Linked DNA regions of Homo sapiens. The protein of the gene in region 1 purifies or fractionates together with the protein of each later gene. This does not show direct contact. Each region holds a gene or a part of one and is shown in the gene's direction. Other genes may lie near its edges.

The links.
Region 2: the proteins of METTL21C (region 1) and CCDC88A purify together in Homo sapiens (affinity purification with mass spectrometry, with the first as the bait; one study listed by BioGRID). This does not show direct contact.
Region 3: the proteins of METTL21C (region 1) and TUBGCP2 purify together in Homo sapiens (affinity purification with mass spectrometry, with the first as the bait; one study listed by BioGRID). This does not show direct contact.

What each region holds. Positions count from the first base shown.
Region 1 is NC_000013.11:102,688,583-102,692,132, reverse strand, and holds part of METTL21C (protein-lysine methyltransferase METTL21C), read left to right. Parts: intron 1-1,168; coding exon 1,169-1,320; intron 1,321-3,550. UniProt on the Homo sapiens protein: Protein-lysine N-methyltransferase using S-adenosyl-L-methionine as methyl donor. Mono-di and trimethylates 'Lys-943' of AARS1.
Region 2 is NC_000002.12:55,409,850-55,413,500, reverse strand, and holds part of CCDC88A (girdin), read left to right. Parts: intron 1-3,651. UniProt on the Homo sapiens protein: Bifunctional modulator of guanine nucleotide-binding proteins (G proteins). Acts as a non-receptor guanine nucleotide exchange factor which binds to and activates guanine nucleotide-binding protein G(i) alpha subunits.
Region 3 is NC_000010.11:133,302,358-133,306,008, reverse strand, and holds part of TUBGCP2 (gamma-tubulin complex component 2), read left to right. Parts: intron 1-3,028; 5' UTR 3,029-3,067; coding exon 3,068-3,217; intron 3,218-3,651. UniProt on the Homo sapiens protein: Component of the gamma-tubulin ring complex (gTuRC) which mediates microtubule nucleation.

The sequences.
Region 1 (3,550 bases):
TTGACCCCCGGTTAAACATTTTACAGTCATATCCCAGGCCACAAAGGCAGGTTTCGTGCAAACAAAACTGACCTTCCTCCCCCCTACTCTCCGCACTGTTAATTCTTTCCCACCCGCTGGGACCAACACCTTTTCCTCTGCTCCTGCTCCTTCTTCCACACACTTTGACTCACTGCTCTTTTATTCCTAAACACTCTGGAAAACCTGCAAACACTTGTGATCTCTTGATGTCAGCCCGATCAGGTGCTCTTTTCCTCTCATTTTATATGCCATCTGAGAGCTGCTAGATGGGTCATGGGTTTAAAGGAGTATTTAAAGCAATAGTAACTTAATAGCCAGAGCTCAGCTGACATCCTCCCCCAGGGCTGTGGGGCTGGCTGGGCCTCTACCTTTTGAACAGCAATTGTAGGAAAGATTGAAGGAACATGCTCCAGCCAACACGTGGGAATGTTACTTCACTTCAAGACCTAAAAATAGGCAGGTCTGGCGGGGCGTGGTGGCTCACGCCTGTAATCCCAGCACTTTGGGAGGCCAGGACGAGTGGATCACGAGGTCAGGAGTTTGAGACCAGCCTGACCAACATGGTGAAACCCCGTGTCTACTAAAAATACAAAAATTAGCTGGGCGTGGTGGCGCACGCCTGTAATCCCAGTTACTCAGGAGGCTGAGGCAGGAGAATCACTTGAACCCGGGAAGCAGAGGTTGCGGTGAGCTGAGATTACACCACTGCACTCTAGCCTGGGCAACAGAGTGAGACTCTGTCTCAAAAAGAAAAAAAAAAAAAGGCAGGTTTGTGTTTACCTAGTTCCTCTGTATCCAGACAGCTCATTCGTGCAATTTTGCTGGTAAGTTCGCCATTTTTCCATCAGCAAAATTTAGGGTGGGGACCGATCCACACATCTTCTGTCCTCCCCTAAATAAAGAAAAGGCCCAGAGCATTCTTTGGCATTTTGTCATCTGATAAAACTGTCACATCCAAATTTCATGTCCCCATCACCCCATATAATTCAATTTTGTGCCAATTTGCAGCCGTTCTCCTTGATAGCATCATCCCTTCTCTTTATGTAAAGGTCATTCAATCTAATGCCATCTTAGCAATTATACCAAGTGTGTCTTTGCACTGGATTTGAACAAATCATGAACTCCATTTTATTTTTCTGCTTCACAGAATCCAACAAGATAGAACCATCTCTTCATAGCCTCCAGAAATTTGTTCCTACAGATTACGCCAGCTACACTCAGGAGCATTATCGGTTTGCAGGAAAGGAGATTGTCATCCAGGAATCCATAGAGAGTTACGGAGCGGTGGTGTGGCCAGGGGTGAGAGAACTGTCATATTTGTGATGTCAGGATTTCTGGAGATAACAATTCCGTACTTCAGAGTTGCCTTGGACAATTTGTCAAGTTCCTTCATATCCTGCTTCTCAATTTGAGGTTCAGTTGCTTGCCCCCTGGAGGGTGTTGGTGGAGTGCTTGGGATCAGCAAAAACAGTGTTTCTTTCAGAAACACTGGTTTTGCTTCAAGCTCTGTTTCTCGAAACATTATTTTTATATTAAATAAACTCAGCTATATGAGGAAGTGAATGCAAAACTTGTATAAATTGTTAAGAATAAACCCAGGGATTTAGAGTTTAGATTTTGCAGTGGGCATCTCCGAGCCACGCCCATCGACCCTCAGCCATTCATCTCTCTCTTTTTTTTTTTTTTCTTTTGAGATGGAGTCTCACTCTGTTACCCAGGCTGGAGTGCAGTGACACGATCTTGGCTCACTGCAACCTCCACCTCCTGGGTTCATGCAATTCTCCTGCCTCAGCCTCCCGAGTAGCTGGGACTACAGGTGCGCGCCACCATGCCTGGCTAATTTTTGTATTTTTAGTAGAGATAGGGTTTCACCATATTGGCCAGGCTGGTCTTGAACTCCTGACCTCAAGTGATCTGCCCACCTCGGCCTCCCAAAGTGCTGGGATTACAAGCGTGAACCACCACGCCCGGCCGGCCAGCCATTCATCTCTTTTCCATGGGGGCTGTGTCGGTAGGGATGTTTAGGAAGCATGACTTTGTGGCATGTCACCCCTGCCACAGCCCTGAGAGGATGGCGCTGAAATGGGGGCAGTCCTCTGGATTTTTAGTCAGAAAAGCTGCCATTTCAGGGCTGGGTAGTCACAAATGTTCACCTCACCTCCGTTTGCCTTCATTTCCATATTTAAAACCTAGGGTGGTCGTAATGTCTACAGTGCTCCTGACGTGGTTGTCAGAATTGTGAGAATTAATTTCAGATTGTGAGATTAAATGAAGTCCTAGCGTAAGCTCACATGAACTGTCCTCATTAATGTAATATTCTTTCCACCTTTCAGCTGAGGAAATGGGAACGCAGGCCAGTCTGCTGGCGTGGTAAAGCTCCCGACTGGGGTGCAGGGCAGAGCCAAGATAGACAGTGGCCCTCAGAGCCAGTGTGGTTGCTTTTCCCACTGCGGATGTTGTCAGTGATTAGAAAGGCTCCAGATCAGAAGTTCTCAATCTGCAGTCTTGTTAAAATGCGGATTCTGATTCAGGAGGTCTTACACATTCCGGGGTGATGCCTATCTGCTGGGCCAGGGTGCCCACATTGAGTATTCCTGGTTAGTGGTTCCACGGGGCTCCCTCAGGTCATCTGGCGATGGCACAGGATGGGGAGAAGGGTAGCCAAAGGGCTTCAGGCTCTTAGGTGTCGACCTTCACTCACTCCCAAACAGGGAGCTCTATTTTTACACCTTATGCATATAATTTCCTTCAACTAAAGGCTTTTCTTTGCCTTAAAAACGAGTTTGAAAATCACCAAACTACTCACAGCTTCCTATTGTAACACATTCAGCAAATAGACGACAGCAGTGGTGTAGCGAGAAAGTGGTATAGTAAGAGATCAGAGGCCGGGCATGTGGCTTATGCCTGTAATCCCAGCACTTTCAGAAGCCGAGGCAAGAGGATCGCTTGAGCTCAGGAGTTTGAGACCAGCCTGGGCAACATAGTGAGACCCCATCTCCCTTTTAAAAATAATAATTTTAAAAAAAAGATCAGAAATTGAAAAAAGAATATTTGTCCCCCTGTTTTATTCTGAACAAGGTATCACTCATGCACCAAACACTAGCCTCTCATGAAACCTGCTTCCTGAAAGCTGCACAAGAAGGGCATCTAGAGTGGGAAGGCGCCCTTTTCCTGTGCGACTTCAGGTGCAACTCTGTGAAAAGATCTCTTCAGAGTTTGCTAACAGGACAAGGGGCTGGCGGGGGAATGTTTGCAATGTCAAAAGACACAGCTGTCCCTGAGAAAAGCTTTGTCTCCGCATGACACCCTGCGGCCAGCCCCTCACAGGGCAGGGCACCAGGAAGGACCCCTGCAGCCATCTCCAGGAAGTTCCTCAGAGCTGCCCTCTGAATGGCTCTAGGTGACACTCTTTTCCTGACATTGACCCCCTCCTCCCAGCCCCCACAGCAAATACTTCTCTTCTCTCCTTAAGGACCAAAGAACTCCTTTCTTCAAAACTTCCCTTCTAAGCTCTGGAGCTCCCTGCAGC
Region 2 (3,651 bases), on another chromosome or scaffold:
ACTTGGGTTCAGTTCTAGCTGTGCTACTTATTGGTATGTGAGCCTAATATCTCCAAATTACAGTTCCTACATTTATAAGATGGGAGATAATGTTTCCCTTCCTGATGGGGAAGGATTATCTACTAAGGCAGGGACAGATAAGTCTATTTTCTGTTTTGTTGACCCACTATATCCCCAGTGCTGGTTGCTGTCATTATTATTATCCTGTGCTATGCTATATCTACCTACTTATGGCTCCTCAAGTAAATCATGATAGTTCACAGCTTAGTTTTTTTGTTTGTTTGTTTGTTTTTGAGACAGGATCTCACTCTGTCACCCAGGCTGGACTGCAGTGGCACAATCGCAACCCACTGCAACCTCAAACTCCTAGGCTGAAGCAATCCTCCCACCTCAGCTTCCCAAGCAGCTGGGACTGCAGGCATGTGCTACTGCACCTGGCTAATTTTTTAAAATTTTTTTTATAGAGACCGGGTCTCACTTTTTTGCCCAGGCTGGTCTTGAATTCCTGGGTTCAAGTGATCCTCCCACCTCAGCTTCCCAAAGTGGCTGGCATTACAGGCATGAGCCACTGCGCCTGGCCGACAGCTTAGTTTTGTATGATCTCTGTTAGTGTCACCTCTATATAGCTGTATGATCTTTAGTAAGTTACTTAATTTGTAAGTGGGATAAAAAGTCACAGGATTGTTATGAGAATCAAATAGAATAATGTATGTACAATGCTTAACATATAGAAAGTGTCCAATAAATGTTAGCTCTTTATTGTTTTATTTATATTATTATCATTAGAATTATTTTCTTCAAGACCAGCGGTCCCCAACCTTTTTGGCAGCAAGGACTGGTTTCATGGAAGACGATTTTTACATGGAGCAAGGCTGAGGGGAGATGGTTTCAGGATGAAACTGTTCTACCTCAGATCATCAGCCATTAGATTCTTATGAGGAGAGTGCAACCTAGATCCCTCGCATCTACAGTTCACAATAGGGTTTGTGGTCCTGTGAGAATCTAATGCTGTTGTTGATCTGACAGGAGGCAGAGCTCAGGCAGTAATGCTTGCCCGCCCACCACTGATCTGCTGTGTGGCTTTCCTAACAAGCCATGGACCCAATCCATGGCCCAGGGGTTAGAGACTCCTGCTCTAGACTATCCTTCCCCTTTTCTTTGACTAACCAATTCCTGCTCTTCCTTTAATACCTTGTGAAGTCCCCAGGCAGAGTTGTTTTCTTCCTTATGATTCGGAAGTACCTTCACCTGCGTAGCTATTGCTTTGCAGTATTACTGTTTAGGGGCTAGATGTTTTGTCTCACATATTACTAGCACCTAACCTAGTACTTAGCATGTATCACTAGCACCTAGCATAGAAGTTGGCATGTCGTAAGTTGTAAGTAAATGTTGAAGGAATAAGTGAAGATAGCTGCAATTTTATTAATTTTCAAAATTTTGAGAATACCTTCTAGTTTTAGTACTGTAGAATTTAGTTTATTTTTTAGTTTGTCTTCTGTTTCTCCTTTTTGTTTGTTCTCTCTCTTTCCCCGTATTTGTTTTAATTACCTTTATTGGATATTTTTCCCACCGATGTTATATCTCCTTTGAGGCAAGGTGATAGGAGCAAGATTTCATGGTCCATGGTTTTTTATAGTATTAGAATATACAGTGCTTTCAGTTTGGTTTCCAATAACTTTCCTGTCCAATATGTTGAGTTTTTTTTTTTTTTTTTTTTTTTTGAGACGGAGTCTTACTCTGTCGTCTAGGCTGGAGTACAGTGGCGTGATCTCGGCTCACTGCAACCTCCTTCTCCCAGGTTCAACCAATTCTCCTGTCTCAGCCTCCTGAGTAGTTGGGATTACAAGGTGCCCACCACCGTGCCTGGTGAAGTTTTGTGTTTTTAGTAGAGACGGGATTTCACCATTTTGGCCAGGCTGGTTTCGAACTCCTGACCTCAAGTGATCTGTCCACCTGAGCCTCCCAAAATCTCATGCTGGGATTACAGGCATGAGCCACCGTGCCTGGGCCATGTTGAGATTTTTTTGTCCACAGCTTTGTATTGGACTGTCTTCAAGAAAAGTCCATTGTGATTGCCTCATTCTCAATATGATTCATATGTAGTTAAACTACAGAAATGATGAGAACCTAGAGAAGAACAGGTGAACTAGTTGTTATACCTGAGAGTATTTTTAAATTTTTTAACTGAAAATTTTCTCTTAATATATATTATGGGAGACTAGTTCTCACAGGATAAATGGAAAGGAAGACCAGTTCTTTCAAAAGGACACCAGCTGACTTTCTTTTAGGATCCATGAAACAGTTTGATACCATTCTAGGCATTAAGTTTTCAATATTCAGAAATAGTATTTGAGATTATACTTGGTACTGGGACATCTGTATAATACTTAATTTATTAATTAGTAAACTGGCTGCTTTTGGAGAGTCAGAGTGGTGGGAGGGCAAAAACAAAAACATGGGCTTGAAAGTTTAAATCCTGAATCAATCATTTAATATTTAGCTAGTTATTGAAACTGGAAAATTACTTTAAATGTTCTCTTTATTCCTGATTCTATTTTTATGCCTTCTTAGATCTATTTTACTAGTTTAATAATTTTTTTTTTTTTTTGAGACAAGGCCTCTCTCTCTTGCCGAGACTGGAATGCAGTGGCGAGATCTTGGTTCACTGCAACCTCTGCCTCCTGGGCTCAAACGATCCTCTCACCTCAGCCTCCTGAGTAGCTAGGACTACTACCATGCCCAGCTAATTTTTCTTTTCTTTTTTTTGTTTTTTGTTTTTTGTAAAGGCAGAGTTTTGCTGTGTTGCCCATTCTGGTTCCAATCTCCTGGGTTCAAGCTATCCACCACCTCAGCCTCCCAAAGTGCAGAGATTAGAGGCGTGAGCCAGTGTGCCTGGCCTACTTTAATAATTAATAAAAATAGGTGGATAAAACCCATCAACTTCACTCTGAGTGAGAGGAGATCTGCCCCTAACATTTGTAAGATCCAGGATAAGCATCCATTTACCACAATAGGCCTAAATATTTAAAGCTTATAAACCAGGCCAACAAATCATTATCTATATTCTAGTCTTTTCTCTTGATAAATATACCTTCATAATGACTTGAAAGTTTCAAATTTAAAATCTGTGGAATTTAGAATTCATAAATTCACAGTTTTGCAGCAGAGTGTGGTTAAGCCCAACCTCCTCCCGTCATCTCTGGCTCTTTCTAGCACCACAAAGAGGTCTCCTGTACATGCTGTGAACACCTTGCATGCACGCACAAGGTCTAAGCTCTTGTACTCCCATCCCCAAACAAGTACTCCTTGGCCCAAGGGTGTACACAAGTGTAGCACAGTCTTTTCTAAGGACAGACCTAGGAAAGAGGCCTGTGTGGGCCTTCAAATTGAGTTAGAAGTGCTTGGGCAAGAAATTGCAAAGTTCTGGGCACCTGGAGTGTCATTTAAAAGTGGGGAGGTAGGCCAGACTTGGGGGCTCACACCTGTAATCCCAGCACTTTGGGAGGCTGAGGCGGGTGGATCACTTGAGGTCAGGAGTTCAAGATCAGCCTGGCCAATATGGTGAAACCCCGTCTCTAATAAAAATACAAAAATTAGCAGGGCATGTTGGCGGGCCCCTGTAATCCCAGCTACTCGGGAGGCTGAGGCAGG
Region 3 (3,651 bases), on another chromosome or scaffold:
CACTTCTCTCTACCACAGCTCTACGCAGGACCTAGGGCTTCCCCTTTTCAGAAGAAGCTTGGAGAGGACGTGTCCTTGTTCAGGGTCCCACAGCCTAGAAGTAGCCACGTCAGTGTCCAGACTGCATGGGGCTCCATGGCGCGTGCCCTGCTGGCCTTGTGCTTGAACTGTAGTTACCGTGAGCACCTCCTGGGTCAAAAGCATGTGTGTGAGCAACTCAGCACCATGCCTTCTTATCGCTCTCCTTCCATTTTCGGAGATACCCTGCCTGTGACCAGTATTTGATGTTCATCTACAGATAAACTGTCTTCCATCACACAGGATTAGAATCTCGGTGTCGAGTCCCGTGCTAATAATCGTTAGTGAATTAGCATATTGTGGGAGTATGTGCTGAGTCTTCTGTACTCTATTGTAGGGACCAGCCCCACAGGGTCGGTGGGTTTTTCTCCTCGTGTGCGGAGATGAGAGATTGTAAAAATAAAGACGCAAGACAAAGAGATAAAAGAAAAGACAGCGGGCCCGGGGAACCACTACCACCAAGACGCAGAGACCGGTAGTGGCCCCGAATGCCTGGCTGCGCTGTTATTTATTGGATACAAAGCAAAAGGGGCAGGGTAAAGAGTGTGAGTCATCTCCAATGATTGATAAGGTCATGTGTGTCATGTGTCCACCAGACATGGGGCCCTTCCCTGTTACGTAGCCGAGGCGGAGAGAGAGAGGACAGCTTATGTCATTATTTCTTCTATGTTCTTTTCAGAAAGATCAAAGACTTTAATACTTTCACTAATTTTGCTACTGCTATCTAGAGGGCGGAGCCAGGTGTACGGGATGGAACATGAGAGCAGACCAGGAGTGTGACCGCTGAAGCACAGCATCACAGGGAGACAGTCAGGCCTCCGGATAACTGCGGGCGGGCCTGACTGATGTCAGGCCCTCCACAAGAGTTGGAGGCGTAGAGTCTTCTCTAAACTCTCCGGGGAAAGGGAGACTCCCTTTCCCGGTCTGCTAAGTAGCGGGTGTTTTTCCTTGACACTGACACTACCGCTAGACCAAGGTCCGCTTGGCAAGGGGCATCTTCCCAGACGCTGGCATCACCGCTAGACCAAGGAGCCCTCTGGTGGCCCTGTCCGGGCATGACAGAAGGCTCACATTCTTGTCTTCTGGTCACTTCTCACTATGTCCCCTCAGCTCCTATCTCTGTATGGCCTGGTTTTTCCTAGGTTATGATTGTAGAGCAAGGATTATTATAATATTGGAATAAAGAGTAATTGCTACAAACTGATGATTAATGATATTCATATATAATCATATCTATGATCTAGATCTAGCATAACTCTTGTTGTTTTATATATTTTGTTACACTGGAACAGCTCGTGCCCTCGGTCTCTTGCCTCGGCACCTGGGTGGCTTGCCGCCCACACTCGATGTTTTGTTGAGCTCATCCTTGTCTCCCTGAAGCTGTCAGCAGAGTGGTTGTTTACCTTTTTTGGGTCATAGAGCCTTTGAGAATTTGTTGAAGGGTCATCTCCTCAGAAAATAAAAAGTTATTTTGCCCATAACTTTCAAGGGCTCATCTGTTACTGATTACTCATGGATACCGGCTTAAGAACCCTTGTGTAGATGAAATGTTTGTGAAGCATGTAAAGTTTGCTTATATTTGTTTTGTAATCTATAGCCAGTTGCCTTGCCTGTGTTTTTTGTTTTGTTTTGTTTTTTGTTGAGACAGGGTCTCCCTCTGTCGCCCAGGCTGGAGTGGCTCAAGCGATCCTCCCACCTCAGCCTCCCGAGTAGCTAAGACTACAGGCATATGCTACCATGCCCAGTTAATTTTTGTATTTTTTGTAGAGACAGAGTCTCACTGTGTTGCCCAGGCTGTCTTGACTCCTGGCCTCGAGTGACTCACCTGACTCAGCCTCCCAAAATGCTGGGATTCCAGGCGAGAGCCACTGCACACAGCCATGTGTTTGTCTTAATGGCCTTGTATCGGAACTCTTGGTGACAGAGGCTAATGAGCAGCCACTGGTGGGAGAGTAGGGGCGGCGCTCACCCTGCCCCCTGACCCAGGGGTGGGCTCACCCTACACCCTGACCCCACGCAGTGTTCTGCTGCCCACTTGGGTGTCTGTGACGCCTTCGATCTCATATGTGTTATATGTCTCCTGGTGAGCCCCTGGGGCAGCTGGAGCTGCAGTGGAACTTCACCTAGCTCAAACGTGTAGGGAACGTGTAGAAGTCCTACCAGAAGCGTCTCTGTCGGTAGCCACGCTTGGGCAAGAAAAGGAGATGTCACGGGTACCAGAGTGAAAAAGTAACGCAGAGCCGGCCAAGTGAATGGAGCTGCGGCTGAGCACCGCGGGCTCTGAGAACCAGTGTGGGCCTCTCCGGTAGAAGCTGGGATGTTACTGTGTGTGCCGGTAGCTGGCACAGTGTCAATGGCTTGGGCCTGCACAGAGCTCCCTGTGTAGACCCCACAGGCCTCACGTCTGGGACCAGAAAGCTCTGTCCCCAAGCCGAGGCGAGCAGCAGAGCATTCCCTGCTGGCCCAGACCCATGTGTGGAGGGAGGTGCAGGGGAAAGGGAACCTGGGTCTCAGGCCCCATTCATGCTGCCCACGGGGCTGGCTCCCGGAGCTGCGGAGGCCGCCTGGAAGCTGGAGGCAGGTGAATCCCAGGCCCACCCAGAGGACCCTCTGAGAGGCTGCTGGGGTGTCGGGGAGGGGCCCTAATCCCAGGCCCATGCAGAGGACCCTCTGAGAGGCTGCTGGAGTTCAGGGAGGGGCCCTAATCCCAGTCCCGTCCAGAGGACCCTCTGAGAGGCTGCTGGGGTGTTGGGCAGGGGCCCTAATCCCAGGCCCATGCAGAGGACCCTCTGAGAGGCTGCTGGGCTGTTGGGGGAGGGGCCCTAGGCCAGGCAGGCCAGGTGATAACTTGGTTTGTCAAAGCCTGACATTGGCCAGTCTTGAGTGTTTAAAAAAATGTTTTTTATTTCTACAGTTTGAATTTTATGAATAGCTGTCTTCTTACCTATAGGAGAACATATTGTGATGTTCGTGCCTCAGAGCTAAAACTATGAGTGAATTTCGGATTCACCATGACGTCAATGAACTGCTTAGCCTGCTGCGTGTCCACGGAGGAGATGGGGCTGAGGTCTACATTGACCTGCTTCAAAAGAACAGGACCCCGTACGTCACTACCACTGTCTCTGCTCACAGTGCCAAGGTGAGCACTGCCCTTGGTGTAGCGCTGTGCAGGGTGAGCACTGTTCCTGGGTCAGGGTGGTGCAGGGTGAGCCCACCCCTGGGTCAGGGTGCAGGGTGAGCGCCGTTCCTGGGTCAGGGTGGTACAGGGTGAGCACCATTCCTGGGTGAGGGTGCAGGGTGAGCCCACCCCTGGGTCAGGGTGCAGGATGAACACTGTTCCTGGATCAGGATGGTGCAGGGTGAACCCACCCCTCAGTCCATGTGCAGGATGAGCGTCGTCCCTGGGTCAGGGTGCATGATGAGCACCGCCCCTGGGTCAGGGTGCAGGGTGAGCGCCACCTCTGGTGCAGGGGGCAGGGTGAGCGCCACCTCTGGTGCAGGGTGCAGGGTGAGCGCCACCTCTGGTGCAGGGTGCAGGGTGAGCGCCACCTCTGGTGCAGGGCTGTGCGGGGT